Homo sapiens: one gene and its partner. The protein of the gene in region 1 purifies or fractionates together with the protein of each later gene. This does not show direct contact. Each region holds a gene or a part of one and is shown on either strand. Other genes may lie near its edges.

Evidence for each region.
Region 2: the proteins of KAZN (region 1) and TVP23B fractionate together in Homo sapiens (co-fractionation; one large-scale study listed by BioGRID). This does not show direct contact.

Annotation. Positions count from the first base shown.
Region 1 is NC_000001.11:14,601,663-14,605,480, forward strand, and holds part of KAZN (kazrin), read left to right. Parts: intron 1-3,818. UniProt on the Homo sapiens protein: Component of the cornified envelope of keratinocytes. May be involved in the interplay between adherens junctions and desmosomes. The function in the nucleus is not known.
Region 2 is NC_000017.11:18,787,606-18,791,423, forward strand, and holds part of TVP23B (Golgi apparatus membrane protein TVP23 homolog B), read left to right. Parts: intron 1-1,429; exon of another isoform or gene 1,430-1,446; intron 1,447-1,747; coding exon 1,748-1,830; intron 1,831-3,290; coding exon 3,291-3,435; intron 3,436-3,818.

The DNA of each region.
Region 1 (3,818 bases):
GGCTCCCAGAGGCTCAGCTCCTCAGGGTTTCTGACTGTTCTTCCAAATTAGTCTTGTGTTTTCATTTTGTCTGTGTTGGTGCAGTTCAATGGGCCCAGACCCTAAGAGTGTTTAAGTGCTATTGAGTTATCAGTTTTCAAATCAAGGTTTTGAATAAAACGAGTATCTTTGCATTTCAAAATGCAACCGTGTAAGTCATCTTTTAACGAAAGGGCATTATGCACATATTAAATGCATGCTAATGTAACTTTAACAATATTAGTACAAATGGTTTTGGGAAAGAGTCACCTTTTGCTTCCTCTGCCAAGAGACTGTTAGATTCATTTTCAAATGTTTTTGTTTTTGTTTTTTAAATTCTTTTTTTAAATGAATGAAGCAAACTCATCAATCCATCATTGGCTGTTTTGTTCCAGGGATGACAACGGGCAGTAGGTAGGTTGGTATCCCCTTTTGATGAAGAAAATTTGGGTTTTCCTAGCGGGTTAATGCAGTGTGTCATTTAAACAAAATATTAACTTGGTTGGTACTCCCTGTGAGCTGGCATGGTTGCTATGTAACAGAATCTAGAAAGTGAACTGCTGAAAATCTGGGCTTTCGGCACTTCGGAGGATATTCTTTCGGAATCTGTGTTGAAAGAATTCCTGGCAGCCAGCCCATCTTGTCTCTCCCTCCTGCAACTGAGTTGGATAATCCTTAATGAGAATGCTGGCGTACAGTGCAGAGGGCGTCCGTGCAGGGTGACACATTTCAGAGCTCCAGAGGCTGCCTTTTGGGTCGGTGGGGTCACGGCAGCCTTTGACAGGTGGACAGAAGGAGGCTTGGAAAGAACAGAGCCAAGCATTTGTTCCAATTCATCTTGTTGTTGGTAGCCAGAGAAGGGATTTGTTTAAAGTAACATTTCTAAGCTGTTTTCCTCAGCATAACATCTCTGGGAAAATGTGTTTAAAATGCTTGCTGTTCTTTGAGGGGAAAATGTAGCAGTTTGTTTCTCTGAAAAAGTTTTATCAGCTGATGAATGACTAATATTAGATTCAGTTGGTTGCTTTGCTATGCATAGAACAAAACAATTAAGTGCTATGGTACCCAATTCAAATAGGTGTTAACTGTATATAACAAAATACTTAATGCCCAGTAGGATGTATGCCTACTGTCATTAGTTTTCTTTGTTAAAGAAATAATTGTATTTGTATTCCTATGCAAGTGGACGTGCTGATAGCATCTTTCTTTGGTGTGGAGGACTTCCTGCCTACTGCATTTGTTAGAAGGGGATGGAGGCAAGGGTCGGTTTCCTGTACCTTTGTACATTTCCATAAATGCGTGCAAGTTGTATTTTTCTCTCCAGGCATTAAAATAGGCTGTTACTTAAGGCCTGACAGCTCTCATCTACCATTACTACAACACTGGAAACTCTTTCGTGAAGTATAAATTACCTTTGGAGTGAATTGAATGTGTGAGTAGTCTGTGGAGACGCTAGACACTGTCGCTTTGCAAAGTAAGTTCTGTCTTTTGGCATCCCCTTCTCAATTCATTCTGCCTCTGCTCTTGTTTTCCTAAGTAGACTTTTATCTTTTTTGAGAAAGAGAATTTTCAAATGGCAGAGAGGATGGAACAAAATGTTGGGGAATCTCGGGCCTTCTGTTAGCTTGCCACTAAGTTACAGAGCTCAGCAAGTAGCCTGCGCCATGGTTTTCCAGCCAGATCAAGGGGTTAAAATAGAGTGTGTCTTTTCCTAACCTGTCATGGGATGGGGATTCAGTCTTCTCCCTGAAAATTGTCATGTGTGGTCACAAAGAGATTACTTACAGATCAGTACAGTGTGGTTGAAATTACTTATTGATTGGGGATTATTTACTATCTTTCCATTGTCTTTGGAAAATGCCTTCAAAGGACCTCTTAAGTCAAGTCTCTGATTCTGGTTAATTTCATGCTTCCATTGTGCACTTCATGATTTTTAGTGGTTTTCCAACACCTCTTTGATGCACCCCAGAAGTCTGAGCTGACCTGACTCATCTAACAGGAGCCTGGTCACATATCTTTCCAGGGTAAGGCATGATAGGCCCTCTCTCCATCCCTTTACCCTCTTACTCCTCAAGAAGACTGTTGGCACTTTTTAGGAATCCTATAGGGTTATAATGTGTGACTTCCTGGCTGCCAGTGTGTTTGTAGCAGATGGGCTTGGCAGGTGGCAAGAGCTCATTGGAACTTTGCCTGCTCACCGTGCATATCATATGGGGCCCAGAAGGTCAAGCTTGGGATTTGGCCACATTCACTGCATGTTTTCTTTATGTATTATAAATCTATATATTCATTCCTGGGCTATGTAGGTAAGGACAGTGAAATCAACACGAACTCCTCTGTTCTTTCCATACCTTAATGGTTTGCCTGAACATTGGTCCCTGGCTTCTTACCCCCTGCCATATATCAGGGGGTTCTGCCTGCTGAGCCCAGAGAATGGGTTTTTAAGTGATGTTGCACGTGGAAATAGGTCTCAGTGTTTGGGCTGCATATTAGGGTGAGTAGCACAAAATATGGCAGGAGTGTCACCGCCAGCAGTCATTGCACTGCCTTGGTGCCTTGAATTGCAGGCATAGTGGGTTCAGAAAGAATGATTTAGGAAAAGACATCTTTCCCGAAGCCAACAGGGTGGCCATCCACAGGGGCAGATCATACCTGACGATTCATAGCAGCTAAGAGTTCTGCTGACCCCTGTCACCACTCTCCAGTTCCCCTGCCACCACCCTCCAAATCCCCTGCCAGGCCCATCTCAGTTGTGGAGAAGCTGGAAGAAGATCAGGGAAAGGAACGCCTTCTTCCTCCCCGTGTGGTTGCACGACACCAGAACATTCTTGCTTGTTTGATGCAACCTTGATCCAAGTGGTGGAGGCGAGGTTGTGCTCTGTGGGCACTCCTGCTACCCCCTTGGAGTCCTAGGCTGCTGGAAACATGAAAGAAGCTGAACATAGTTTTAATGAGTTTGGCAAGAACAACTGTTTGAGCAGGTGGCTGCTGTGTGGTACAAGATCATTGGGGCTAAATTTATTCTGCGGGCTTTGTTGGCTGGGTCATGTCAGACCCTTGGGTCAGGCTTCTGAAAGGTCCCTGCCCCTTTACTTTCTGATGAATTGAGACCTCAGCACAGGAGCTCAGATGGAGCTTGGAACAGGCAGTCCTGCAAGCAAAGAGCCCCAGGGCCTCTGCCCACTTCTCCAGTCAGGCTGGAGAGGGGAGAGAAGTTGGGGAGAGGAGGTGTCCTGCCCAGCTCCCTTCTCCTCTGTCCTCTTCCACCACAGCAAGCGCTATGTTACCTTTGTGGGGATGTAAAGGCCTTCCATTCCCAATATTACCTCTGCTCTACAGATTGTGTGAAGTAATGAGTCATTAAGAACAGAGCGCCCCTTTTAAAGAAGCTGATATTCTCCACTCATCTTTGCATACCTCACTATTATTATTCTCAGAACTTACCTTTTGGGCATGCCACAAGACGCTGGGGATTCTGGGACCATCTTGAAGCCTGTAGTTTCTTTCTCTTTGGTCAAGGTGAATAGTTTAATGTAGCAGTAAATGAGAACTGGTTTCATTGCTTTGGTCAAACTTTTTAATAAATAATAATATGCACTTACAATATATCAACTTCCCTGGCAAGCGCTTAACATGCATTATTGAATCCTGAGGCCAGCGAGGTGACAACTATAGCTGGCCCCCACCCAGCACAGTAAAAAATCTGTCTATAACTTTTGACTCCCCCAACACTTAACTCCTACTAGCCTACTATTGACCGGAAGCCTTATGATAACGTAAACATAGCATAATATAAACAG
Region 2 (3,818 bases), on another chromosome or scaffold:
GGTATTTGGTGGTGAGCAGGGCATGAGGAAGGGAAGAGTTTTCTGAGACAACATGTGAAAGGCAGGAGATGGGAGAGAGATTGTAGTGTTCTTAGAGACCATGTAGTAACAGTATTGCTTCAGTGCTCAACAGTGCTCAATGAAGACAGTGTCAGAAGCAAGTAGGGGGCATTAGATTCTGTGATCTTCTATGCTTTATGTGAAGGAGTTAAATTTTATCCTATACTTGTAGGGATGCCATTGAAAAATTTGAGCAGTAGAGTGACATGGTGTGATTTCCATATTGGGAGGATTGCTCTGGGTAATGTAAAGGAGAGGCTGGAATAGAGAGGGATAAAGGCAGGGAGGCTGGTGAGTGCCACTAGGAGAGGAACAGGATCAGGTTTGTTGTAGTTGAGGGGAATTGCAGTGAATTGAGGCGTGAACCACTCTTAGAAGCCTAAGGTTATGGGGCCGGGCATGGTGGCTCACGCCTGTAATCCCAGCAATGGGAGGCCGAGGCGGCTGGATCACAAGGTCATGAAATCTCCTGGTTAACACGGTGAAACCTGTCTCTACAAAAAAAAATACAAAAAATTAGCCAGGCATGGTGGCACGCGCCTGTAGTCCCAGCTACTTGGGAAGGTGAGGCAGGAGAATCACTTGAACCCAGGAGGCAGAGGTTGCAGTGAGTTGAGGCCACGCCACTGCACTCCAGCCTGAGCGACAGAGCAAGACTCCATCTCAAAAAAAAAAAAAAAAAAAGCCTAAGGTTGTAAAAGGAAGCAATGCTTTGGGAAGGTAGAGGATTGAAGGGGAGATTCAGGATCAGGGTTCTTAAAAAAATCTTTTTTTGCCTAATAAGTGGCCTTGAAGAAGTTTATATGCATATGCTGATTAGAAAGATTCAATAGAGGCCGGGCGTGGTGGCTCATGCCTGTAATCCCAGCACTTTGGGAGGCTGAGGCGGACAGATCACCTGAGGTCAGGAGTTCAAGACCAGCCTGGCCAACATGGTGAAACCCCGTCTCAACTAAAAATACGAAAATTAGCTGGGTGTGGTGGCACACGCCTGTAATCCCAACAACTTGGAAGGCTGAAGCAGGAGAATCGTTTGAACCCGGGAGGCGGAGGTTGCAGTGAGCCAAGATCGTGCCATTGCAGTCCAGCCTGGGTGATGAGCAAAACTCCATTTCAACAACAACAAAAAAGAAAGATCCAATAGATAGACTTGAAGATAGAAGAAAGTGTAAATACAGGGGAAAATGATGAAACAAATCCCCGAGGAGGCATGAAAAGAAGTTATTCTGAGCACAAATAATTGGTTTAGCCTTGGATAAGAAGAGGAGGAGTTGTGAGAAGGGGTCATGGAACTAAGGATGCAGTCAGATGATTTTGTGAAGGAGCCAGAAACCTTGAGATTATCCCCAGTAGCCTCGGCTTGCTCTGTGACTTGGGAGAGAACAGGTGAGGAGGACAGGTGTTAAGTTGTAGTAGCCTCATCTGCACCCTAGAGTTTTCTCAGATGGTGCAGCCTAGGGGCAGGGATGGAGGAGCTGAGACTTCGATTATTCTCTGGGTTTTTTGCCAGATGATTTGAGGAGGCGGGTGGAGGATCTGCATGTGTCCTTTTCCTAGGTTTTGAATTCCTGATGCTGTAACCACATTATTTTATCTTCTATTTTGATGAGTATGCAGCTTTGCATTGCAGTGGCTGTGTAAACACTGAATTTTGTTTTGCTTCTTGACCATTTATTTTTCCTACCAGGATAGTAATGATGACACTGAAGATGTTTCACTGTTTGATGCGGAAGAGGAGACGACTAATAGACCAAGAAAAGCCAAAATCAGGTAGGAGGAGAGAAGTTGCATGAGCTGTGTTAGTGTCCAGTGCTGTTCTGTATGTATGTCAGTGCTAGCTGATGGGAGTCAAGGCAGAGTTGTTTCAATGTGCTTGTGAATACTGCATGTTGCTAATTTGACGTTTAGTGTACGACAAAGATGACATTTCAGATTTTCTTGTGAATAATTGGCATACTTAATACTGAGTTTTAAAATCAGCAAATCCAATTATTTGAACACCTGTGTTTTTAATTCTGTGCTATTTTCCAAGAATGTACCATTTCTTTATATAGTTTCTATAGATACATTACATTTTGATTTATTGTGCACATTTCAAAATCACATAACATTTCTATTCTAAATTTAATTCTCTCTAAAGAAATTCACTTACTGAAAGCAAATTCTACTTGAACCCTGCTAAAATGCTGTCTTTTACTTTTCTTTCATCTTTCATGCCAGTCACAAAAGACCACATATTGTATGATTTCATTTATATGAAATGTCCAGAATAGGCAAATCTGTAGAGACAGAAGATAGATTAGCTGTTGCTAGAAGCTGAGGGGTTTGAAGGTAAATGGGGAATGACTGCCAGTGGGTACAAAGATTCTGTCTGGGGTAATGAAAAGTTGTAAAATTGGAGTGATGGTTGTACAAATCTGTGAATGTACTAAAAACCATTAGATTGTTTACCTTAAATAAGTAAATTGTATGATATGTGAATTATATCTCAAAAAAGCTATTAAAAAACAAGAAACAGGCTGGGCACGATGGCTCATGCCTGTAATCCCAGCACTTTGGGAGGCCGAGGCAGGTGGATCACGAGGTCAGGAGATTGAGATCATCCTGGCTAACATGGTGAAACCCCATCTCTACTAAAAATACAAAAAATTAGCCGGGCGTGGTGGCAGGCGCCTGTAGTCCCAGCTACTTGGGAGGCTGAGGCAGGACAATGGCGTGAACCCAGGAGGTGAAGTTTGCAGTGAGCCGAGATTGTGCCACCAAACTCCAGCCTGGGCGACGGAGCGAGACTCCGTCTCAAAAAAAAAAAAAAAAGAAAAGAAAGAAAGAAACAAACTACCTGATAACTTTGTCTTAATGTCTGAGTGATTTCTGAGGGCTAAGGAATTCTTTTGGTGTGATTTGAAAATAGGATTCAAATTCTAAGATACAGTTTCCTTATTTCTCCAAGAGAGATAAAATTCTTTATTATCTATTTTGTGAAAGTTTATATTCAATGAGGTGTTAAAGTCATCTGTGCATAGTGTATTTTCTGTAACTACAGGGCCTAGTCAAATAGTGGGGCTTAAGAAAAAGAGAGCTAGGAGGTTTGCTTCATCCTACTAAAGTCACCTCTTTTATTTTGACAAAACTCTTCACAGTTACACGATGGCTAAAACATTTTTCTCTACATTTGCTAGTACCTGTAGTAAAATGTAATTGCATTTCTTTCATTGTGTTTTGGTTTTCAGACATCCAGTAGCATCGTTTTTCCACTTATTCTTTCGAGTCAGTGCAATCATCGTCTATCTTCTCTGTGGGTTGCTCAGCAGCAGCTTTATTACCTGTATGGTGACAATTATCTTGTTGTTGTCGTGTGACTTTTGGGCAGTGAAGGTAATTTTGATTGTTTTTATTTTAAAATTATATTTAATATGAAAATGATGTATAAAAATATGAGTTAGCATTTTGCATTATTGTTAATCTTTTGTTACTTCAAACCTCATCTGTGTTGAAGTGCTAGATATATCAAATTGCATGTAGTTTTTTTTTTTTTTTTTTTTTTTTTCATTTTTTCCCTTTGACAATACAAGATGAGACATGCAGGTTACTGTGCTGCTGATTTTTCTGTGCCATATTCTAACCTACATCAGCTTTAAAGTCAAATAAACAAACAAAAGTGACTAGCAACCATAGACCCTACAATGTTGCTTCTAATCCATACCATGGGTTTTGCTTCAGGCTTACCTGTAGGTGTGTTGTATATAATTTCTAGATAA